Homo sapiens: one gene and its partner. The protein of the gene in region 2 interacts with the protein of the main gene of each other region in a biochemical or structural test. Each region holds a gene or a part of one and is shown on either strand. Other genes may lie near its edges.

Region 1 (12,508 bases), on a different chromosome or scaffold from region 2:
AAAATTAAAAGGTGGGCATAGATTGAAAGGGTTGAAGCTGCTAAGCTAGAGTTAAGAGCAAAAATGCACAAAGGTTAGGGAGAGCTTTGTAATAAGCATTTCTAAGAGAGAACAAATAGTGAAACTGAGTCAAAAATCCAAACCTGGGTAAATCTGCATTGTGTATAGCAGTGGTTCCCTATCAAGGGCAATCAGATGTCCCCCCAGTAGGCATTTGTCTATGTCCATAGACATTTTTGGTTGTCACAATTGGAGGTGGGTTGGGGTCTGCCATGAGTATCTGGTGGATAAAAGTTAGGGATACTGCTAAAGGTCCTATAATGCACAGGGCAGCCTGTACAACAAGGAATTAGGCCCAAAATATTAATTGTGCTGAGATGAAAAAACATTTTTATACAGACAATATTGTTACTCCACAGCTTTCTGTTTTCAGATGTTAAGAGTCCTGCAAAGTTCCTAACTGGTAGTATAAAGCTTAATATGTGCTATTAAAAATTGCATGAACCAATATGGCTTTTTTTTTTTTTTTTTTTTTGAGGCGGAGTCTTGCTTTGTTGCCCAGGCTGGAGTACAGTGGCACGTGATCTCGGCTCACTGCAACCTCTGCCTCCCCGGTTCAAGCGATTCTCCTGCCTCAGCCTCCAGAGTAGCTGAGATTCAGGCGTGCCCCACCATGCCTGGCTAATTTTTATATTTTTAGTAGAGACAGGGTTTCGCCATGTTGGCCAGGTTGGTCTCGAACTCCTAACAGGTGATCTGCCCACCTCGGCCTCCCAAAGTGCTAGGATTACAAGCGTGAGCCACCACGCCCAGTCCAATATGACTTTTGTATTACACAGCTTATCCTATTTGTCATTCATACATAAACTCATTCATGTTACAGAAATAAAGGTCGTAGCAGCACATATAGTTTTTTTTTTTAATGTGTATTTTCTGTTCTCGTATGGTGCATTTCTACTTAGCTGATTTTTCTTCTTAGAAAAACCAATTACAGCTCTGACTACAGGCTGATTTGAGTAAAAACAAAAACAAAAAAAAACTTTAAGGTGTTAATTTAAATGCTTTTCCTAGATGCTATCTTGCTAATTTATTTTCCCCTTTCTTCCCAGCCTGTCTCGATATAGATTGAAGTTTAGCGCTGATAAAGTAGACACAATGATTGTTCAGGCAATTTGTAAGTATAGTACATGCAAAGTCCGATTTGTTGCTCTGTCCTTCATGCGTTTTCATACTGTTGAAACTATCTTTTATGATTCTGTCTGTTGAGAAAGAGAAAGGAGGCCAGGTGTGGTGGCTCAAGCCTTTAATCCCAGCACTTGGGAGGCTGAGGCAGGCGGATCACCTGAGGTCAGGAGTTCAAGACCAGCTTGGCCAACATGACAAAACTCTGTCTTTACTAAAAATACAAAAAAAATTAAATGTGCATGGTGGCGTGTACCTATAATCCCAGCTACTCAGGAGGCTGAGGCAGGATAATTGCTTGAACCCAGGAGGCGGAGGTTGACTATTTGGAGATTATATGAATCACAGAATTAACATTACGTTAATTAATTCATTTGTATTTTTCCATGAAAATGTTAAAAACATAAGTGCAATCTTTGTAGTTGTGTATTCTGCTGTGTCATTAAATGGTTTTTAGAAAGCTCAAAAGCTGCCAGGCACAGTGGCTCATGCCTGTAATCCCAGCACTTTGAGAGGCTGAGGCGGGAGGATCACCTGAGGTCGGGAATTTGAGACCAGCCTGACCAACATGGAGAAATCCCGTCTCTACTAAAAATACAAAATTAACCAGGCATGGTGGTGCATGCCTGTAATCTCAGCTACTCGGGAGGCTGAGGCAGGAGAATCACTTGAACCCTGGAGGCAGAGGTTGTAGTGAGTTGATCGTGCCATTGCACTCCAGCCTGGGCAACAAGAGCAAATCTCCATCTCACTAAAAAAAAAAAAAAAAAATCAAAATCTTAATCGTTTTTCTATTTTAGAAATGCATTCGGCCGTGGCTCACGCCTGTAATCCCAACACTTTGGGAGGCAGAGGCTGGTGGATCACCTGAGGTCAGGAGTTCGAGATCAGGCCAACATGGTGAAACCCGATCTTTAGTAAAAAATAAAAAAATTATCTGAGCATGATGGTAGGCGCCTGTAATCTCAGCTATTCAGGAGGCTGAGGCAGGAGAATCACTTGAACCTGAGAGGCGGAGGTTGCAGTGGGCCGAGATCGCACCATTTCACTCTAGCTTGGACAACATGAGCAACACTCCGTCTCAAAAAAAAAAACAAAGTATTCGGCTGGGCGCAGTGGCTCACACCTGTAATCCTAGCACATTGGGAGGCCAAGGCGGGTGAATTGCCTGAGCTCGGGAGTTTGAGAGCAGCCTGGCTAACATGGCGAAACCCTGTCTTTACTAAAAATACAAAAAAGTAGCCAGTCGAGGTGGCGTGTGCCTATAGTCCCAGCCACTTAGGAGGCTGAGGAAGGAGAATCACTTGAACCCAGGAAGCAGAGGTTGCAGTGAGCTGAGATCGCACCACTGCACTCCATCCTGGGTGATGGAGTTAGACTCTGTCTCCAAAAAAAGAAAAAAAAAAGCGCTCAACCAGCGATTCCTTTCCTAGATTTATACCCAAAAGAATTAAAAACAGAACTGAGTTGCTTGTACACCTATGTTCATAACAGTGTTATTTACAAAACCAAACAGTGGAAACAACCCAGATACCTTTTAACAGATGAATGGATAAACTGCATTGTGGATGCAGCTTGAATGTCCCTAATCTGAAATTCAAAATGCTCTGAAATCTAAAACTTTTTGTGGTACCACACAAATCCACAAGTGGAAAACTCCACACCTGACCACACGTCAAAACTTTGTTTTATGCACAAAATTATTTAAAATATTGTGTAAAATTACCTTCAAGGTTTTGTATATAAGGTATATGTGAAATGTAGATGCATTTCCTATTTAGACTTCGAGTTCCATCCTCAGCCTCATACGTGTTTGCAAATACTCTGAAATACTTCTGGTCCCAAGCATTTTGGGTAACGTACACCCAGCCACTTCACACAGTGGAATGTTAGTCAGCCTTAAAAAGAAATGAAATTCTGATACATATTTCAACATGATAAACCTTGAAAATATGCTAAGTGAAATAGTCACAAAATACTGCATGATTCTGCTTATATGAAGTACCTAAAATAGGTGAACTCAGAGACAGAAGTATAAAGATAACTAGAGGTTGGGGGGAAGGTGGGAATGAGTTACTGTTTAATGGGTACAGAATTTTTCAGTTTCTGATGATAAAATTGCTCTGGCAATAGATCCTGGTAATGGTTGCATAACATCATAAGAATACTTAATGCTACTGAATAGTACACTTGAAAATGGTTGAAGTGTTATTTTTTATTCTTTTTTTTTTAAATTTTTTGCGACGGAATCTTGCTCTGTCACCCAGGCTGGAATGCAGTAGCACGATCTCGGCTCACTACAACCTCCACCTCCTGTGTTCAAGTGATTCTTCTGCCTCAGCCCTCCAGAGTAGCTGGGACTACAGGTGTGCACCACCATGCCTGGCTAATTTTTGTATTTTTAATAGAGATGGGGTTTCACCATGTTGGCCAGGCTGGTCTTGAACTTCTGACTTCGTGATATGCCTGTCTGCTGGGATTACAGACATGAGCCACCGTGCCCAGCCTGAAGTGTTAAATTTTATGTTGTGTATGTTTTACCACAATAAATCCCTTTAAGTTTTGTTTGTTTGTTTTTAATCTACTACAGCCTTGTTAGATGACTTGGATAAAGAACTAAACAACTACATTATGCGATGTAGAGAATGGTATGGCTGGCATTTCCCTGAATTAGGAAAAATTATTTCAGATAATTTAACATACTGCAAGTGTTTACAGAAAGTTGGTGAGTAATTTGTTCATCCTTTAAGGCATTGAAAGTAAATGAATTTGATTGCATCCTAAAACATGACGTATAGCATTTTGTTAAGCAAGATTCCCAGGGTTTTTGCAATTTCTGTGTATTTGGGAAGTGTAGCAGTTTAGTGTCTTAAATTTAAGAAACAAAATGAATTTTAACTTAGATTTTGATGGCCTATAACATGATATTAGTACCTAATGCTAAATAGCAGTATTGCCGTCTGTACTGTTAATATACAGAGGAACTTGATTGTTGATTGTCGTTAACGTACAGAGGAACTTGATTGATTGATGGTTTACTTGCCTTACGAATTACTGGCCCCAGCTTCAGTATAAAATTGTCTGTGACATTATTATTAGTCCTGTCTTTTTTAAATTTTTGCCACTTATATTCTGTAATAAGTGTTGTGGCATATTTTGTCCTCTTTTTACTCTGATTATTTTTTGGAAGAAGGTGGTGGGGAGACATTTAATGTCTAAACTTAAACCCTTAAATGAGGAAAACTGTTATACTAGGTCAAACTTCTTCATTTTTTTTGTTTTGTTTAGGCATCCTTTTCATTGGCTTTCTACTTTTTCTTTTGACTATTTGCTGGATTTTATATAATTTGTTGAAGAGTGATTCTCCCTCATCCTCTGCAAACATTCCATAGGCGATAGGAAGAACTATGCCTCTGCCAAGCTTTCTGAGTTGCTGCCAGAAGAAGTTGAAGCAGAAGTGAAAGCAGCTGCAGAGATATCAATGGGAACAGAGGTTTCAGAAGAAGATATTTGCAATATTCTGCATCTTTGCACCCAGGTAAATTTTACTCCTGGAGAATCTAGTTGTGGTGTTACCAGCTCTATAGTACTAATTTTTCTGATGGCAATGATGATTTTTACACTTATTGTTGTTCACCTGATAACATAAATATGAGGGTGTTCAGTCACTACCTCATCTGATGCCATCATGATTTGTATACTTAAAAGGGGGAAATACATATTAAAAGGAAGTAATTTACAATCATCGTCTGAATAATGAATTAACCAAAAATCAATTAAGATGGCAGAGAAGGCCAGGCGCGTTGGCTCACGCCTGTAATCCCCGCACTTTGGAAGGCCGAGTCAGGGATTGACCTGAGGTCAGGAGTTCGAGACCAGCCTGACCAATATGATGAAACCCCCATCTCTACTAAAAATGCAAAAATTAGCTGCGCGTGGTGGCGTACACCTGTAATCCCAGCTACTCGGGAGGCTGAGACAGGAGAATCGCTTGAACCAGGGAGGGGGAGGTTGCAGTGAGCCGAGATGGCACCATTGCATCCAGCCTGGGCAACAAGAGCAAAACTCCATCTCAAAAAAAAAAAAAAAAAAAAAAAGGATGGCAGACAATTATGGATTGAGCCTTTTAATTCTGAGTCTTATGTCTATATCTTGTGATTTTTTTTTCTTTCAGATTTGAAGGTAGCCATATAGGAATTAAAAAGAGCATGATACAAATGTTTATTGCTCAGAATCTTTTTTTTTTTTTTTTTTTTTTTTTTTTTTTTTTTTGAGACAGAGTCTCACCCTGTAGCCCAGGCTGGAGTGCAGTGGCACGTTCTCAGGCTCACTGCTACCTCTGCCTCCCAGGTCCCAGTTCAAGCGGTTCTCCTGCCTCAGCCTCCCGAGTAGCTGGGATTACAAGCACGTGCCACCATGCCCAGCTAATTTTTGTATTTTTCATAGAGACGGGGTTTCACCATGTTGGCCAGGATGGTCTTGAACTCCTGACCTCATGATCCACCTGCCTCGACCTCCCAAAGTGCTGGAATTACAGGTGTGAGTCACTGTGCCTGGGCTGCTTAGAATCTTTTAAAAATACAGTTACGCTGACTAAGATTTTCAGGCAGTGGACCAAGTAGTTTACATACATTATATAACGAAGTCCTCATTACAGCCATCTTATAGAAAACTGATGTTAGGATCATGAGGTCAAGAGATAGAGACCATACTGGCCAACATGGTGAAACCCTGTCTCTACTAAAAATACAAAAAATTAGCTGGGCGTGGTGGCGGGCCCCTGTAGTCCCAGCTACTCCAGAGGCTGAGGCAGGAGAATCACTTGAGCCCGGGAGGCGGAGATTGCTGTGAGCTGAGATTGCGCCACTGCGCTCCAGCCTGGGAAAAAAAAAAAAGAAAACTGATGTTAGGCATAGGTGATGTACCCAGTACCCAGGGTTGTGTAGCTGCTCTTTCATAATTGAGGGCTCCAGTGTTTTAGACAGGAATTTTTACTGTTTTTACTCATATGATATTTGTGACTTAACTTTATTCCTTATACTAGGTGATTGAAATCTCTGAATATCGAACCCAGCTCTATGAATATCTACAAAATCGAATGATGGCCATTGCACCCAATGTTACAGTCATGGTTGGGGAATTAGTTGGAGCACGGCTTATTGCTCATGCAGGTGATGGTTTTAATGTAATTTGTAAATATGAGTGTTTGAAGTATTTTCTGGTTAGGATTTTGTTTACATCTTTAAACTACAGCTGTTAAAGAAATTTTAGCTGATAACACAAAAGTAGATGATATGTGGGAGATCACTAAGGGCCAAGTGTTCAATGATGATTTCTATTTGTTTGCCTGATTTCCTTTTGGATAATGAAGGCATCTTTAGTCACTACCTCTTCTGAGACACTTGTGGTCCATTGTTAGAAGTTTGTTAGGGTTAATTAGAACAATCGGATGAATGCAGGAGGATAAAACAGTTAACATTTTCATAATAAAAACTCACTAGACCTAGATTTGAATACAGTTTTAAGAAATCACTGTAGAGAAAGAAAAAAAAAAGAAATCACTGTAGAGGATTTGTGCCCTTGATTGATTACCTTAGTTTCACTATTGAGTGTGAGGATGTAATATATTTGACTTTCAAAAATATTTTCAACAACTGATTTATAATAAAACTTTGTATATGTGTATGGCAGTATTATAAGGATGATATGCTATAATTAAAATGCTATGTAATTGAATACCTACAAATACAATGAAGTACTGATTCATCATTTTTATGTTACTTGGAGACATTGTTATAATTCATCAAAAAAGATTATATCATCTGCATCAGAGTGTTTAAAATGGCATAACTCCTTTTTTTTTGTTTGAGACAGAGTTTCACTCTGTTGCACTGGCTGGAGTGCAGTGGCTCACTGCAACCTCTGCCTCCCAGGTTCAAGCAATTCTCCTGCCTCAGGCTCCCAAGTTGCTGGGATTACAGGCATGTGCTGCCACCATGCCTGGCTAATTTTTATATTTTTAGTTGAGACAGGGTTTTTGCCATGTTGGCCAGGCTGGTCTCAAACTCCTGACCTCAGGTGATCTGCGCACCTCAGCCTCCCAAAGTGTTGGGATTACAGGCGTGAGCCACTGCGCCCGGCCTGGCGTAACTCCTTTAGCTGCATCATTAATCAAAGGTTTCATTCAAATGCCCTCAGCTATAAGATCAGATGATTTCATTGTCTCTACCCATTTTCATAGGTATAGCTAAACTTGTAGCAGTAAGCAATGGCAGGGGTTAATAGAAGTATGTATTTGTTGGCCAGGCGTGGTGGCTCACGCCTGTAATCCCAGCACTTTGAGAAGCTGAGGTGGGTGGGTCACCTGAGGTCAGGAGTTCGAGACCAGCCTGGCCAACATGGTAAATAAAACCCCATCTCTATTAACAACACAAAAATTACCCAACCTTGGTGGCATGAGCCTGTAATCCCAGCTACTCGGGATGCTGAGGCAGGAGAATTGCTTGAACCCGGGAGGTGGAGGTTGCAGTGAGCCAAGATTGTGACATTGCACACAGCAGTGGTGACATTGCTTGCCTGGGTGACAAGAGTGAAACTCCATCTCAAAAAAAAAAAAAAAAAAAGAACTATGTATTTGTTACACTTTTAAAACTATGTCTAGTGCTTAAGTTCATAGTATTAATAGAGTCTGTTTTCTGACAGGAAATATTCTATACAGCATATCCAACTAAGCAGCATGTTGATAACAATAGTCCCCAGCTATTTATGGAGATGTATTCTAAGCTCCCCCCTCCAAGAATGTTTGAAACAGAGGATAGTACTGAATCCTATACTGTATATGCTGTTTTTTCCTAAACATACATATCTATAATAAAGCTTAGCTTATAAATTAGGTACAGTAGGATATCAACAACAGTCATAATATAACAGTTATAACACTATGCCAGCAGGGCCGGGTGTGGTGGCTTACGCCTGTAATCCCAGCACTTTGGGAAGCTGAGGAGGGTGGATCACGAGGTCAGGAGTTCAAGATCAGCCTGGCCAAGATGGTGAAACCCCATCTCTACTAAAAATACAAAAAAAAATTAGCTGGGTGTAGTGGTGGGTGCCTGTAATCCCAGCTACTCGGAGGCTGAGGCAGAGAATTGCTTAAACCCGGGAGGCGGAGGATGCAGTGAGCCAAGATCGCGCCACTGCACTCCAGCCTGCGCAACAGAGCGAAACTCTATCTCAAAAAAAAAAAAAAATGCAAGCATAACTATTTTTGTGCATTGGTTACTTGAATATAAGCACTGCAGTACTGCACAACGGAGAGGGCTACGAAAGTGACTAATGGGTAGATAGAGATGATTCATGTCCTGGGGGGAGCTGAGTGGGATAGCAAGAGATTTAAAACTTAGGAACTATTTATTTCTGGAATTTCCTTTTTAATATTTTCAGACTGCAGTTAACCACAGGTAATTTACCACACAAAGTGAAAGCACAGGTAGGGGACTATTAATAGATACTTGTAGGAATATCTCTTCCTAATAAATGTGTTTATTTGTAGGCTTTTTCATATCTAAAGCAATAGAATATTTGATACAATCTCAGAAAGCAGGGACCAGATTAGTGTTCGTGTGTGTGACATTTATGTCACTCCTGTAGTATACTAATGGAATTTAGAATAGTACTGCCATCTCTCAGGTGAATAGAAACATTGAACTTAATAAGCTTAGCCTTCAGTTTGTCCTAGGCATTCATTGCAAACCTGCTTGTGCTAATGAAGGAATTACAAATGAAACATCAAGATTTTTAGGGAATTCTGGATTATAGAATTCTATATTATATGTGATTTTTATTTATTATGGTGGCTGTAATAATTCTATAGGTCTTTTGTTTCAGTACGTGGAACATTCATATATTTGGAGGTGCATTCTTTGTAACTTTTTTCTTTTGTAGGTTCTCTTTTAAATTTGGCCAAGCATGCAGCTTCTACCGTTCAGATTCTTGGAGCTGAAAAGGCACTTTTCAGAGCCCTCAAATCTAGACGGGATACCCCTAAGTATGGTCTCATTTATCATGCTTCACTCGTGGGCCAGACAAGTCCCAAACACAAAGGAAAGGTGTGTTATAGGGTTTTGCTTTGTTTTTGAGGTTAGACTTTTTCATTTTTTACAACCCATTTTTCTTCTACTCTGTAGTACACATTAAATCTTCTATTGTCTCTTTCTTGTTAAATAGGGAATGGTGAGTTATTTAAATAAAAAGTGCTTTGTGTACACTGAAGGATAAGGTTAGAAGAAACTGTTATTGGTTGGATTAAAGCCAGTTTCTTCCATTGTGTTAGTATTTTTTTCCCCCCTAGAATCTCCCTGTGGTTGGCACACTGAAAATACTATCTCTGGCAGCAAAAAAAAAATCTAACATTTACGAATCATAAAAAATAGCATATGCATTATGCTAAAACACTTTGAGAGAAGTCACTAAACTTTTTTTTTTTGAGATGGAGTCCCGCTCTGTCGCCAGGCTAGAGTGCAGTGGCTTGATCTCGGCTCACTGCAACCTCCAGCTCCCTGGTTCAAACGATTCTCCTGCCTCCCTGCCTCAGCCTTCTGAGTAGCTGGGATTACATGCACGTGCCACCACGCCCGGCTAATTTTTGTATTTTAAGTAAAGACCAGTTTCACCATGTTGGCCAGGCTGGTCTCAAACTCCTGACCTCCTGATCCACCCACCTCGGCTTCCCAGAGTGCTGGGATTACAGGTGTGAGCACCTGTGCCTGTCCTAAATCTTCAGTAGCCTTATGAGATGTAGGTATCTCTATCTTGCAGATGATGAAACTGAGGCTTAGACAAGTTAAGTACTTTCAATGTTTTTGAAAGATGTGTCGTTTAACAGATCTAAACTGAAAATTGATAAAATTTAGAGCAGAGTGGTGGAGGAAAATAAAGCGTTCAATAAAATAAAATGTTAATTAGATTGAAAAAGAACCCACGCTTTTTTTTGTTTGTTTGTTTGTTTGTTTGTTTGTTTTTTGAGATGGAGTCTCACTCTGTCGCCCAGACTGGAGTGCAGTGGTGCCATCCCGGCTCACTGCAAGCTCTGCCTCCCAGGTTCACGCCATTCTCCTGCCTCAGCCTCCAGTGTAGCTGGGACTACAGGCGCCCGGCACCACACCTGGCTAATTTTTTGTATTTTTAGTAGAGACAGGGTTTCACCGTGTTAGCCAGGATGGTCTCGATCTCCTGACCTCGTGATCCACTCGCCTCGGCCTCCCAAAGTGCTGGGATTACAGGCGTGAGCCACCGCGCTCGGCCAGAACCCGCACATATTTAAGATTGTTACGAGGAAAAAGATGCACTTCTTTTCAGTGACCTCATAGCACAGAACTAATGTCACTGAGTAGAAACTAAAGTTTAAAAATATTTTTTAAAAAAACCTAGTTTGAGCTAATATTTGACATGAATTGCTGTAAAATCTTTTCAGCCACAGAAGTGTTGGTGGTGATATATGGCCATTAGATTGTGGCAAAGGTTGAAATACGATGGATGATTTGAATTGTATGATTCATAATAGTTTTATAACTCCTGATTTTAAAACATCCAAGTTATTGAGGATTTTACATCTGAACATGGAATATAGTTCTTCATGTTTTTCTATTAGATTTCTCGAATGCTGGCAGCCAAAACCGTTTTGGCTATCCGTTATGATGCTTTTGGTGAGGATTCAAGTTCTGCAATGGGAGTTGAGAACAGAGCCAAATTAGAGGCCAGGTTGAGAACTTTGGAAGACAGAGGGGTAAGAACTACATCATGCCTATTCCAGAAGTATTACTTGTCAAAAGTTAATAAACTGAGTAAATTTATTAACTTCATCTGCTAAACAGTTTTATGATACTTATTAGTATGTCTAAAGTATTCTTTTTGTGCCTACTGTTAACAATTGCTATTATTTACCAAGAATTGATGTATCCAACTGCATTTGCCATTAGGATATGCTATTCAAAATAACAAAACAAAAAATAGCAGAAATTGCTGTTTGCTGGCCCACTGATTCACTAGACTGTATAGTGTATTATAAAGAGATTATGACTTAGAAGTGTATTTGTAATTTTTCGTTTTCTTCTTAGATAAGAAAAATAAGTGGAACAGGAAAAGCATTAGCAAAAACAGAAAAATATGAACACAAAAGGTGAGTACATTTAAGTGAGGATGGGGTGAATAGTTTTTTTAAATGTTAATTATTGACAGTAATTTTTTATTGTAAACTTCACCTTGATGTGCCCATAGTTTTTTCAAATTTATTTATTTGACCAAAATTGTGTATGTTTATTGTGTGTATGTTGTTTTGGAAAATGTGCACATTGAGGAATGATTAAGTCAAGCTCATTAACATGCATTGTCTTATGTACTTTTTTTGTGGTGAGGACACCTTAAAATCTACTTAGCAATTTTCAAGAATATAATACATTGTTAGCTGTAGTTAACCATGTTGTGCACCCCTAATTTTTTTCCATGCCATTTAGTTTTCCGCATTAACTTCTACTAGTTTTCATTCATATACATATTTAATTTATTCATTTCCAGATATTGATAGTAAATTTTTTTAATCTAAAGTTCCTCTATAATATGTTCTTTATCAAAAAGTTCACTCAGCCGGGCACAGTGGCTCATGCCTGTAATCCCAGCACTTTGGGAGGCTGAGGCAGGCAGATCACCTGAGGTCAGGAGTTCAACACAGGCCTGGCCAACATGGTGAAACCCCATCTCTACTAAAAATACAAAAAATTAACTGGGTGTGGTGGCGGGCACCTGGCTGAGGCAGGAGAATTGCTTGAAACCCGGGAGGCGGAGGGTGCAGTGAGCTGAGATCGCGCCCCTGCACTCCAGCCTGGGCAACAAGAGCAAAACTCCGTCTCAAAAAAAGTTCATTCAGAGTTAATCCCTACAGAAACCTATTTTGTAAAAAGTATAAAGACAGAAAACAAGTCTAAAGATGGCTGAGGCATGACAAAGCATTCAAACTTAACTATCAGATTAACAAAAGATTTGTATGTGGAGGGGTATTTGGGTTATTATTTGAGGCAATGCTCAATGCTGGTGAGGTTGTGATGATGCAGGTAGAATGTGGCACAGCTGTTCTAGGAAGCCATTTCACAGTATGTATCAAGATTCTTCAAAATGTTCCTAGTCATTAACCCAATAAATTATACTTTCAGGAGTCATAATCCTTCAAGATTTTTTTTTTTTTTTTTTTTTTTTTTTTGAGACAGTCTGTCTCTGTTGCCAGGCTGGAGTGCAGTGGCACGATTGCGGCTCACTGCAACCTCTGACTCCCCGGTTC
Region 2 (12,910 bases):
AGGTTACCAAAATAAACCTAACAGAATACTTAAGAAAAAGTGGAAGACTCTGCTTTTAATATCTTCCTGACTATAAATTCAGCTGTAATAAACTCCACTGTAACTGCCACAAGAAGGCCAATTGCAAGTGGAAGCTAACATAACTTTTCTAATGGAGCTACAATAAATTTAACTAAATAAAATTCTAGTGTACTTGCTCTATTTCACATCCTCTTGCTTCTTTTTTGGAGATACTATATTAAATGTAAAGTAGGTGGTGACTCAGCAGGATGATGAACAGGCAAGGGGGTGACGTGCAAATGTGCTTTGGCAGCAACTGGTCCCCAGGAACATGGGCACTGGGGGTGGGAAGCAGGAGCTGCACAGGGGGCATCACTGGTCTGCCCGCCAGCACCTAAAGATATGAGGCACTGAAGTGTCAGGTGGAGGAGAGGACCAGTATGGTTGGTTGCAAGTTGGTTATAATGAGCAAATATGTAAATGTGTTGAAGATAATGTTAGCCAAGATTCCCCTTGTTGAAGGTTACTTATTTACTTTATTATTTTAAAATTTATTTTAATGTTTTTAAATAAAAAATTTTTGGTTTTTTTTTAAATAGAAATGAAGAAGGTTATTTAAAAGCAAGGTGGGCTCAAGACATTATCTGATAGGAAGGAAGGCTAGAAAGAACCCTCAGGTGTTGGGCCAACATTAGAAGTACTGTTATAAACTCATGGCATTTAAGTTTATATACACAGCAGACATAAAAATAGTTTTTAAAAGTGTTACATATGTGTGTATATATACACAGACACATTCATGTATGCGTGTAAAACACACATATATAACACTGCTCAACTCTCTCTACTAAGAGGGCACAGGAGCAATAAGCACAATGAGCAGCCAGCTTTTGGTTTCTAAATACTATTTTCCACGAAAGGAACCAAGTTGCCCGGAGAAATGACAATTCCAGGTTGGAGCATGAACTGTAAAAGATAAACCTGGGTCATCTTATGCCAGAAGATTAGGAAGCACTCAACACTAGAAATACCAAAAGGACACAGGAGCCACTTCAAAGAGTTCCCCACTGGGAACTCTGGCCAAATCAGAGACAATATCAGCACCAAATTAATGTTAGCAATGGAATATAACCTGTTAGTAAACTAAGAATCTAGATTCCATGTTAACATAAATGAATAAATACATGGGGAGAGAAGGGAAAGCGCTCCTTACAGAATACTAACTAATAAATGCAGTAGGAGCGAAGAAGACAAGAACTACTCCTTGGCATCCTTCACAGAGGTAGCTGATTCAGGGGGAAGTTATCAATGAAGGCCAAGGCTTGTGGGTTTACTGGAAAACAGGATACTGATATAACACTGGAATATGCCCCCACAAAATACTGATTAATACAAAGGGAACTATTGTGACTTTACAGTAGAAAACCTGGCATTCAGCAACATCACCCATGATGGTATACTGTCTACAAAAAGTGCCTCCTGAGGCCACACAGAGCTGGGCATAGCATCATTTCTGTGGCACTCCTGCTAAGGCATGACCCAACTATTCCTGATGAAACATCAGACAGACCCAGGTTATGCAAGGTCAGACCCCACCTCTAGAAAAAACAAAAAAAATTAGTCAGGTGTAGTAGTGCACACCTATGGTTCTAGCTATATGGGAGGCTGAGCTGGGAGAATCACCTGAGCCCAGAAGGCTGAGGCTGCAGTAAGCAATGATCATACTACTGCACTCCAGCCTCAGCAGCAGAGCGAATCTCTGACTCAAAAAAAAAAAGAAAAAAAAAAAAAAAGCCATGCCAGACATGGTGGCTCATGCCTATAATCCTAGCACTTTGGGAGGCTGAGGTGGGTGGCTCACTTGAGGCTAGGAATTTGAGACCAGTCTGGCACACATGGTGAAACCCTGTCTCTACTAAAAATACAAAAATTAGCTGGGTGTGGTAGTGTGGGCCTGTAGTCCTGGCTACCTGGGAGGCTGAGGCATGAGAACTGCTTGAACCCAGAGGGTGGAGGTTGCCACTGCACTCCAGCCTGGGCGACAGAGCAAGACTCTGTCTTAAAGAAAAAAAAAAAAAGGAAAAAAAAGAATACATATGAAATTATTTGTAATGAAAAGCATACATGTTTCAGTTCAAAAAGATGAAATTCAATGGAATTGATAAGATGGTCATTAAATAGTGTTTTAAAAGTCATTCTGATTCAAATCCAATTGTGTATTATTTTCTAGAGGTGTGAGTTGAGAAATCTTCTCAACTTTTTATATTTCATAACTTATATTCTTTCTTCTCTTTTAGAAGGAGGGCTTCCTAAAAGTAGCATCAGTACCCGATCATACTGTGGGCCGTGAATTAAGCATGTAGCCTGGGCTGCCACTGACTGCAAGGTGACTTTCCTTTCCTGGCCTGCATCTCCTACAAAGAGCCAGGTATTTTTTTCTAGTGAGCTTTTTGGTCCCACCACAGTGCTAGCCTGTAAGCCTTCTGGAGGATGGGCCCAGCTTAACAGGTCAGGTCCTGAGAAAGAGGCAGAAAGGCCTTTCCTCATGGGTGAGAGGTAAATCAGATGTCCAAGGTTATTACCGTATGTTCCAAGGCTGCTGATAATTTGAGGCAGAAAGATCAGCAACAAGAGATTACCAGCTGTTATATTTTTATGAAAACTGTTTCTTACTTAAAACTTTCAAGTATCTCCAAGAGCATTCATCACCGGGAATGATGTATTTCTAATGCCTGGCATTTGAAGAATTTCCATTATACTTGCTAAGTAGTCTCTATAAAGCTGTCTTTGAGTTTGATTAGTGTACCTTAATCCACAGAGCATAATGACTCTGGATGAATTGATGGCCTCAAAAATAGAAGATTTGTTGTAATTTCTGGACCTGGCACACGTAAGGACTAAATAAATCTTAACTACTGACTTGAATTGTAAAGCAGAAGACCCAACCTGGATTGTAGTAATCCCACTAAGATACTGCTCTCCTTAGAGCCCTAAGCAGCCACCTGAATTCTTATCCTCATACCTCTGAATATAGCAATCATCACTATGATGCCTAAGTCATCTTTCTATTGCAGCACCTGACACTCGGGCGGCTGAAATAAATGCTGAATATAAGATTCTTAGCAATATCTGAAGTACAAGTAGCAATTCCTCTTTTGCAAAGGGACTGTGAATCAGCTTCATTTTCAAGTAGTAAAATGGAAAGGAAGCCCTTTCTGAAAGGTTAAAAGGGGATCACAGAAATAATATGTGACTTGCCTAAGGCCACACAGCTGAGTTTTGTAAAAGCACACAGATATGCTGTCTATAAGGTCACTACTCTTTTAAATTCTGACTCAGGAACCTGTTGGGGGGAAAACATATCAAACAATTTCGTTGTATCATATATGAAAGACTAGAGATCACCATCAGACACTGTCACATGAGTATGATCAGAGGGAAATATAGGCTCTTCAGTTTCCAGAATAGTCCTCTATCTCCACGAATCTATATTAATGTTAAAGTGTCTGAACAGAACATCAGTTGTTCTAGTGACTTTAGACTACTTAAATACCTTAATGAGGGAGATTCAATGAAATCATGTTCTATGCCAACTGGTAGCATAGTAGAAAGGCTCTCATGTCATACAGATGTGCGGTAGAATTCTAAGGCTGCCATTTACTGGCTATGTGATTTTTTTTAGGCCACTACTGAGACTCTGAGACAGGGTCTCATTCTGTCACCCGGATTGGAGTGCAGTGGTACGATCATGGCTCACTGCAGCCTCCACCTCCTGGACTCAGCCTCCAGAATAGCTGGGACTACAGGAGTGCCCCACCATGCCTGGCTAATTTTTTGTATTTTTAGTAGAGATGGGGTTTCGCCATGTTGCCCAGACTGGTCTTGAACTTCTGGGCTCAAGCGATTTGCCTGTCTCAACCTCCTGAAGTACTTGGATTACTGATGTCAACCACCACAACCAGCCAAGACTCAATTTTCTACTTGAATAAGTGAGGATAACAAGACATACCTCAGGGGGCTGCTAGAAGGCTTAAATTAAAAAAAAAAAAAATTTAAATTATTCTGACATTTGTTAAAATGGTAAAGAAAGGCTTTATTTAGGATAATTGCGATAGTAATCAACATAATGGTAGCCACACGCATGTAATCCCAGCACTTTGGGAGGCCAAGGCGGGCAGATCACTTGATGTCAGGAGTTCGAGACCAGCCTCCAAGGTAAAACCTCATCTCTACTGAAAATACAGAAATTAGCCGGGTATGGTGGTGCACTCCTGTAATCCCAGCTACTTGGGAAGCTGAGGCACGAGAATTGCTTGAATCTGGGAGGCAGAGGTTGCAGTGAGCCGAGATCATGCCACTGCACTCCAGCCTGGGCGACAGAGTGAGACTCTGTCTCAAAAGAGAAAAAAAAAAAGATAATGGCAATGGAGAGAAATTTTGCTCAACTTCAAATATAGCAAAGACAGCTGAAGATAGCCAATGGGCAAAATTCAGGGGGCGTGGTCAGTGGATGGAAAATTACTAAGGGGAGACATCCAGCATGGGGGGATTGTTGCTATACCAACAGTATTCTTGCTGAGGGCAGGCCAGAGCGATCAGATACGAAGGGTGGGAAGATCTTGCTACATGGACTTAGCAGGATTCTGGCTAAAAAAAAAAAAAAACACCTGTAATCCCAGCACTTTGGGAGGCTGAGGTGGGAAAACTGTTTGTACCCAGGCATTCCAGACCAGTGTGGGCAACAAGGTGAGATCCCTGTCTCTACAAAAAATAAAAAAATCAGGCAGGTATGGTGGTGCATAGCTGTGGTCCCAGCTATTCAGGAGGCTAAGGTAGGAGGATTGCTTGAGCCAGGGAAGTTGAGGCTGCAGTGAGCTGTGATTGTACCATTGCACTCCAGCCTGGGTGACAAAGTGAGACCCAGTCTCAAAATAAACCTCCCAAAACCCAAAAAACAAAACAAAAAAAACACCCAAGAACCACCCCGCCACCACCAAAAAAAAACCAACAAACAAAAAAACTAATGGACTTAGAAGGATTCTTGTTAAAACTGGACCAGACAGGTTGAAGACAAGTCCCAAATGACAAGGCCTAATCAAAAGGAGAGCTCACTCAGAGCCTGTGTAAAGTCTGGTTAAGGAGAGTCTCTGTCAGTACAAAATGTAGAACAATTAGTGGTGGCACTTAATAAGTCATCTAAGGGAGGAGACCACCCCTCATATTGTCTTATGCCCAATTTCTGCCTCCAAAGAAAGAAGTAAAAACTAAAAGGCAGAAATGAAATCCATAAGCAGACAGCCCGGCGCCACACCCTGGGCCTGGTAGTTACTGATCCACCCCTGACCTAATCGGTTATTTGCATAAAAAAGGCACTGGGCCGGGCACAGTGGCTCACGCCTGTAATCCCAGCACTTTGGGAGGCCAAGGCGGGTGGATCAGAGGTCAGGAGACAGAGACCATCCTGGCTAACACAGTGAAACCCCGTCTCTATTAAATACACAAAAAATTAGCTGGACATTGTGGCGGGCGCCTGTATTCCCAGCTACTTGGTGGGCTGAGGCAGGAGAATGGCGTGAACCCAGGGGGTGGAGCTTGCAGTGAGCAGAGATCTCGCCACTGCACTCTGGCCTGGGCAACAAAGCGAGACTCTGTCTCAAAAAAAAAAAAAAAAAAAAAGACACCGTGAAGACCCCTGTCCAGTTCGGTTCCTTTCTAATTAGTGGTGTACGCAGCCCCCAGTCACGTACCCCTTGCTTGCTCAATCAATCACGATCCTCTCATGCAGACCCCCTTAGAGTTGTGAGCCCTTAAAAGGGACAGGAATTGCTCGCTCGGGTTGCTCGGCTCTTGAGACAGGAGTCTTGCCGATGCTCCTGGCCGAATAAACCCCTTCCTTCTTTAACCTGGTGTCTGAGGGGTTTTGTCTGCGGTTCTTCCTGCTACAGTCAATCGATCCAAGGGATTTAGTCAATTCTAGTGGATACTTTTAGTCCTCATTTTGCTTGATATTTTGGCAGCTTTCCAATGTTGATTACACCTTCACTGAAACACTTGGTGACAGTGTACTTAGGCTTGTCTGTTTCCTAGTTAATCCATCTCTTCTTGTCTTTAAAAAGTGCTGGAATTCCTCAAAGGTGGGTCCCCCTCCCCCACCCTTCATTCATGGGTTCAATCACTATCTAAGGCTAAATGGCTCAAGTTTTTAAAACTAGCCCAGACTTCTCCAGCGCTCCAAATCAATATATCTAACTGCTTATACCATCTACTCTTGGTTATCTCATAGATACCCCCAAATCAAAATGTATAAAATCAAACTCATAATCTCTTCTCCGTTGACCCAAAATAAAATTCATGATTCTCCAGTGATCCCTACCTCAGTGAAAGGCAGCAATACAATTCAGTCCCCACCCCCAGCAAGTTTTCTCCCATCTTTCTTTCTTTCTCCATTTCTGCTGCCATTTATCCTAATCCAAGTCACTATAATCTCTTGCCTAAACAATGGTCTTAAGTGGTTCTCTTCCTCCAAACAATCCTCCACACTGCCGCCTGAGTAGTATTTTAAATATGCAAATCTGATCATGTCATTCCCCAGCTTAAGGTTTTCCTATAGTCTACAAAGTCCTGCGGGTTTTGACCCTGCCTACTGTGCACACCCTATCTTCTTTCTTTCCCAGTTTTTTTTCTTTTCTTTCTTTTCTTTTCTTTTTTTTTTTCGGGACAGAGTCTTGCTCTGTCATCCAGGCACGACAATGGCTAACTGCAGCCTGGATCTCCTGGGCTCAAGAGAGCATCTGGCCCAAGCCTCCAGAGTAGCTGGGACTACAAGCATGTGCCACCACAGCTGGCTAATTTTAAAAAAAAATTTCAGTACAGATGAGGTGTTGTTATGTTGCCCAGGCTAGTCTCCAACTTCCGGGCTCAAGTGATCCTCACTCCTCGGCCTCCTAAAGTGGTGGGATTACAGGTGTGCACCACCGTGCCCTCCCTCCCAGCCATTTTGTTCAGTTTCCCAGGCTTTCTTTTGCTCCCTCAAGGCCTTTACTGAGTTCAGCCTGCAGAGAACGCTTTCTCCCACTGAAACTCACCCCAATTTATCCCCCTTAGACCTCTTTCCAAAAGCTACTTCCTCAAAGAAACCTCTGTGACCCTTGGAAAGTTATTTGTTTTCACAGCATCCTGCACTTCTCTCTCATAGCACTTATAACTATAATCAACCAAGTAATAATGTAACCAGTTATCTTAATATTGATCTTCTCTGCTAGGAAGTAAACTCAATACATGTAAGGACAGAATGTCTTGTACCTCAGTGCCTACCAGCATACTTGATATACAAGAGCACAAAAAACATTTTCTGAATGATTGTATGACTACATGCATGCCTGACTAAAAAGGCGACAATACTTTTTACATTAAATTTAACAAGTTTAACTTCTTTTTGCGTTTTCAAATTACTCCACAAAATTACACGAGAAAAATGAATTCCTTCAAACTTAAATCCTACTATATTAAACTATATTAAAAGTCTATCACATAAAATTCACTTCCACAAGGATTTAACTCTAACAAAATAAGCATGTGAGATTAAATATACCCGTTATAGAGATGAAAAAAAGGTTCAAGTGGTTTAACTCACGCATTTAATATAAAGGAAACAATTCCTAGAATTCAAGTCTCTTGGCGGTATTATTCCTGCATACTAGCTATTTTTCATGTGGGGCAATTTTTACCTGATTCAAAGATTTCCCCAAAATAAAGATATCACAAAAACTGATGTAAATATGGTTAAGTCTTTTATCTCAACTAGTTTGAAGTTTTAATTATGTGCATTTGGGCTTAAGTAGATTTTTAGGTTTAAAAAAAGACGTTAACCAAAGCAAGTCACTCAACTTTAAACTTTCACTTTATGACATCATATCTACTAGAGATTTCATTTTACATGTCGCTTTCCCCCAATTTTTAAATGTCCCCTCGATTTACAAATATGAGATGACATATAGCACCTACGACATTTTTTCATAGCAGCCTACCAAGTAGATGTAGTCCTTCACATAAAAATAATGGCAGTGGGCGACCACTCCGTCATGTCTGAGGGTTTTGTTTTTCTTAAACATCACCGTGCCCAAGGGTCAGATGTTCTGGCTGCTTTCAGGGATCAATTACAACCACGTTTGCAATACCTACATTTCTGGGTAATGACTGTGCTAGAACATGAAGAGATTCTCTTTTCTACTTACTCCACAAATGCCCTGGAGCAAAGGCACAGTATCTTACAATCCTCCCGCTCCTCAATGAAGAGAAACATTTCCGCCACGCGGCTCCACTTCTCGCAGCACATTTTACCACTTCGGAGGCAGCTCTGACGTACGCAGCCCGGGTCGCGCCTGCCGGGCCTCCGCTCGGTTACTGGAGACTTAAAACAGGCCTCGCCCGCAAGCCCTGGATGAGGAGATAGAAACTGGCCCGCGGCCGCTCGCGCCGGGAACTAGCCCGGACGCTGCCGCCGGAAGTGGCTCCGAGGGGCCACGGGAAGGGGCGGGACCACGGGCGGTGTCACCCCCATCGCGGCCCGGGCTGCAGCCGCCGCTTGGCTTCTTTCACACGGGTTGCTTCGGAGGAATCCGCCGTGCAAATCTGTCCGCCCCCTTGGCCACTGATCCCCCGAAGAGCTTCTGTCGCCGCTCTAGGGTAAAGGAGAGCTGCCCCTGCCCCTGCCCCCGCCTATCCGAGGTGCGTCGGCCCCCGCGCTTCTCCAGCCCGGCATCGGGTCTGGCGGGACTGGGAGCGGCGGAGGCCGCGCGCGTCCGGTCTCCCAGGAGCCGCCTCGGAATCCCCAGTCTCTTCGCGGGCAGGCTCGGCTTCCCGCCGGCCTCAGTGTTGCGCCCCAGCGCCAGAGTGGCCGGGTGTGGAGATCCTCCCTCCTCTGGGTCAAAGAGCCTGCTCTCCCCGCCCCTCTTCTCCCCTGGCGCTCTAAACCTTCGGTTCGGCGCGTTTCATCCTAATGCATCTGGTGGGGCGAGGCGTCTCTAGCCTCTGTAGAGGCCTCTAGGCTTGCCCAGTGGCTTCGCTGGTTCCGGGACCCAGGTCGAGCCTCCGGTGTAAAAGCCAAGGGGAAGTGTGTGGTGATCCCGAGAGTGTAGGGGGAAAGCCGCGTGGGTAGAGCGTTCGTATCCAGACCGATCAGGCTTGGAATCCTGGTCCTACCTTGTGACCTGGGCAGGCAACTTCACCTTTCTGAGCTTACCTTTGATCACCTGTGAAATGGGGTTGATTAATAGTAACTACTACATGAGGCTGCAGGGAGGACTAAACGAAATGATGTATATTACACCTTTCCTTTGTGCGCTTAATCGTTGGCGTCGGTTTGGACCTTGTAGGCGTTAAGTGCTGTCTCGGTCCCTGGGGTTTGCAGCCTGTAAAACAGGTCTCTGCCTTCAAGTTACTAATTATCTAATAAGAAAAAAGTTCATGTGGGCATAAATAGGATGGAGAAAATGGAAACAGCAGCGTTGCTGGATCTGTTAAAAAGCAGTTAGTATTTGGTGTGTGGTATTCATGGAGGCTGCACGGGCAACTTCTTCAGAGACAAGCTCAGACTTGAAAGTTGGAGCGCTTCGGACGTGGTTGGTGCTACGAAATGCCAAAATAGTATTGGTACTTCTTCAGAACTATATAAAAACTGAGCTAAAATTCATGCATTTTGAATGGTATTTTCAATAGTATTTTGGCCACATTTACTAGTTAGTGGAAATATTCATTTTCAAATGTTTATTCCCACCTCCTTACTGCTGCCCTACTTTGAGGTCGGAGATAGGCTGATTTTGTTGGTTCAAGAAGGTAAGAGTGCTGCACGGTTACAGATATACCAGTATAGATGTGCAGCATTATTGGGATGAGTAGCTGGGTTACGATAATAAGGGTAGAACAGTAATTATGAAACAGAGTGGAAGATTTTAGCTAGAAGTTGGGCATTCTAGGATTAAAGAAAAGTCTTGAAGGGTAATTTGTATCAGAACCTCGAGTTTAAAGCTTGAAATAAAAAAAGTATTAAAGCTAAAAGGATTAGATTTACCAGCTATCTTGACAAATACTAAATTGCAGCTTTATTCATGGTTTGAAGTAGAAGTCCTATTCAGTAAAACAGTGCTGTATCTCTGTTAAACCATTATTAAATATGCAGAAAGGAAACAGGAAAACTTGTTTTTCAGTGACTATATCTTTTAATTGGCATTTTCAGAATGTTCTCAATGTGACTTATATACTAAAAGTAAAATGGAAAAGTACTGGTAATGGGTGTTCAAAATAGATATACTTTATTTATTTATTTATTTATTTTTTTTGAGACAGGATCTTGCTCTGTCACCCAGGCTGTAGTGTAGTGGCGCGATCGCGGCTCACAGCAACCTCTACCTCCCAGGCTCAAGCAATCCTCCTACCTCAGCCCCCCGAGTAGCTGGGGCTACAGGCATGCCACCATGCCTGCCTAATTTTGTGTGTGTGTGTGTGTGTGTGTGTTTTGTAGAGACAAGGTTTTGCCATATTGCCCAGACTGGTCTTGAATTCTTGGGTTCAAGTGATTTGCCTGCCTCAGCCTCCCAAAGTGTTAGGATTATAGGCATGAGCCACTGAGCCCAGCCTAAAATAGATACACTTTCTTAAGGTTTTATTGAAAGCCAAAAAGTTCTCTGTTCTGATTTATTAGTTTTTGAAATACTCTGATTTTAAACATCTGTAAGGTCCATATCCTCACCATCAATGTCAATATGGTGATATTTGAGCTTGTCAACTTTTTTTTTTTTTTGGAGACGGAGATTCATTTTTGTTGCCTAGGCTGGAGTGCAATGGTGCGATCTTGGCTCACCGCAACTTCCGCCTCCTGGGTTCAAGCGATTTTCTGCCTCAGCCTCCTGAGTAGCTGGGTTTACAGGCATGCGCCACCACACCTGGATAATTTTGTATTTTTTGTAGAAACAGGGTTTCTCCACATTGGTCAGGCTGGTCTCGAACTCCCGACCTCAGGTGATCCTCCTGCCGCTGCTTCGCAAAGTGCTGGGATTACAGGCATGAGCCACCGCGCGTGGCCTTGTCTACTTGTTTTTACAAAAGTTACGTGATTTCCAGATAGGGAAATTAAGATACTTTATATGTGATGCATTAGACTGTGTTTATTTTAGATTTTTAGGAGCAGGGGGCTGTAGAAAATAACCTGGAATTTTGAGAACTAAAATATTGTATTTCCCCCAAAACATCTTCTAGTACATAGAGTTCCCCCCTGCCCCCGAGACAGGGTCTTGCTCAGTTGCCCAGGCTGGAGTATAGTGGTGTGATCATTATAGCTTACTGCAGTCTTCACTCCACGGGCTCAAGCAGTCCTCCTGCCTTGGCCTTCCAAGTAGCTGCAACTTACAGGAACGTGCCACCATGCCTGGCGAACCTTTTTTTGGTAGAGACAAGGTCTCAGTATGTTGCCCCCAGGCTGGTCTCAAACTCCTGAACTCAAGCAGTCCTTCCACCTTGGCCTCGAAAACTGTTGGAATCACAGGCGTGAGCCACCCTGGCCCATGTCATTTTTCTTGGATTAAAATAAAGTGATAAGAAGTCAGTTACACCCCCAGGTAAATTCAGGGGGAAGGGGAAGGGCCAGGCAGAAGTATAGGGAAGACAGAAATTGCAATCTTAATATTTTCTTTCTGTCAAGAGAGAAAAAGAGAGATATATCAAAGAAAGTGTGTTGGAAGCCAGACCAGGAGGTAAGATGACTAGATTTTAATTTTAGTTCTTGGCTTTTACTGAATTAATTTAGTAATTTTAAGCAAGCAAACTTGGCTTTCTGTGTTTACTTTTTTTGTTATCTGCACAATTAAGGGGTTGCATTGAGATTTAAAGACACTTTGTCATATTATCAAAAGTAAGTGCTACATTTTATCTACTGAAAGGCATTTTATTCAAATTCCTCTGATAGTTCTCTAGTAGCAGGTTTTAGGATACTGTTTTGATCCAGATTTCTGTTAAAGATTTAGATGAGGCCAAGCAGGGTGGCTCACGCCTGCAATCCGAGCACTTTGGAAGGTGGAGGCGGGCGGATCACTTGAGGCCAGGAGTTCCAGACAAGCCTGGCCAACATGGCAAAACCCCATCTCTACTAAAAATACAAAAATTAGCTGGGTGCAGTGGTGCTTGCCTGTAGTCCCAGCTACACGGGAGGCTGAGGTATGAGAACTGCTTGAGCCTGGGAGGTGGAGGTTGCAGTGAGCTGAAATCGAGCCACTGCAGTCCAGCCTGGGTGACAGAGTGAGACTCTGTCTCAAAAAAAAAAAGTTTTAGACGAACACAGTTCAGTTGTATATTTAGCCAGCATTTGTTAGGTGCCTACTATGTGCCAGAAAGTAAGTGTTTTTCGTATGTTTTCTTAGATAACTATTTTATTTACTGATATATTTAGAATAGTATCTGGCACAAACTTCTCAGGGCCATCCACTTGTACATTGTATCCTGTCCCCTTTGGCCTAGTCAAGGACAGAGCTCTAACAATTATCTCCTCTCCTACATCATCTGTTTCTCACTCCCATTGATGAATTATCGTTGACATTGAACATGGGTGTATTTTCTCCTATCTTTTTTTTTTTTTTTTTTTGAGATGGGATTCTCATTCTGTCCCTGAGGCTGGAGTGCACTGTCAGAATCTCGGCTTATATAACCTCTGCCTCCCGGGTTCAAGCAATTCTAGTGCCTCAGCCTCCCAAGTAGCTGAGACTACAGGTATGCACCATGATGCCTGGCTAATTTTTGTGTTTTTAGTAGAGACGGCATTACCATGTTGGCCAGGCTGGTCTCAAACTCCTGACCTGAAGTGATCCACCCGCCTTGGCCTCCCAAAGTGCTGGGATTACAGGCATGAACCACTGTGCCTGGC

What was found.
Region 1: the proteins of TGS1 (region 2) and NOP58 form a complex in vitro, tested with the Homo sapiens proteins (one study listed by IntAct).

What each region holds. Positions count from the first base shown.
Region 1 is NC_000002.12:202,286,551-202,299,058, forward strand, and holds part of NOP58 (nucleolar protein 58), read left to right. Parts: intron 1-1,109; coding exon 1,110-1,174; intron 1,175-3,772; coding exon 3,773-3,907; intron 3,908-4,574; coding exon 4,575-4,720; intron 4,721-4,766; exon of another isoform or gene 4,767-4,878; intron 4,879-6,226; coding exon 6,227-6,353; intron 6,354-6,500; exon of another isoform or gene 6,501-6,584; intron 6,585-9,123; coding exon 9,124-9,287; intron 9,288-10,828; coding exon 10,829-10,963; intron 10,964-11,294; coding exon 11,295-11,356; intron 11,357-12,508. UniProt on the Homo sapiens protein: Required for the biogenesis of box C/D snoRNAs such as U3, U8 and U14 snoRNAs. Part of the small subunit (SSU) processome, first precursor of the small eukaryotic ribosomal subunit.
Region 2 is NC_000008.11:55,769,044-55,781,953, reverse strand, and holds the start of TGS1 (trimethylguanosine synthase), read right to left. Parts: upstream 8,509-12,910; 5' UTR 8,336-8,508; coding exon 8,235-8,335; intron 1-8,234. UniProt on the Homo sapiens protein: Catalyzes the 2 serial methylation steps for the conversion of the 7-monomethylguanosine (m(7)G) caps of snRNAs and snoRNAs to a 2,2,7-trimethylguanosine (m(2,2,7)G) cap structure.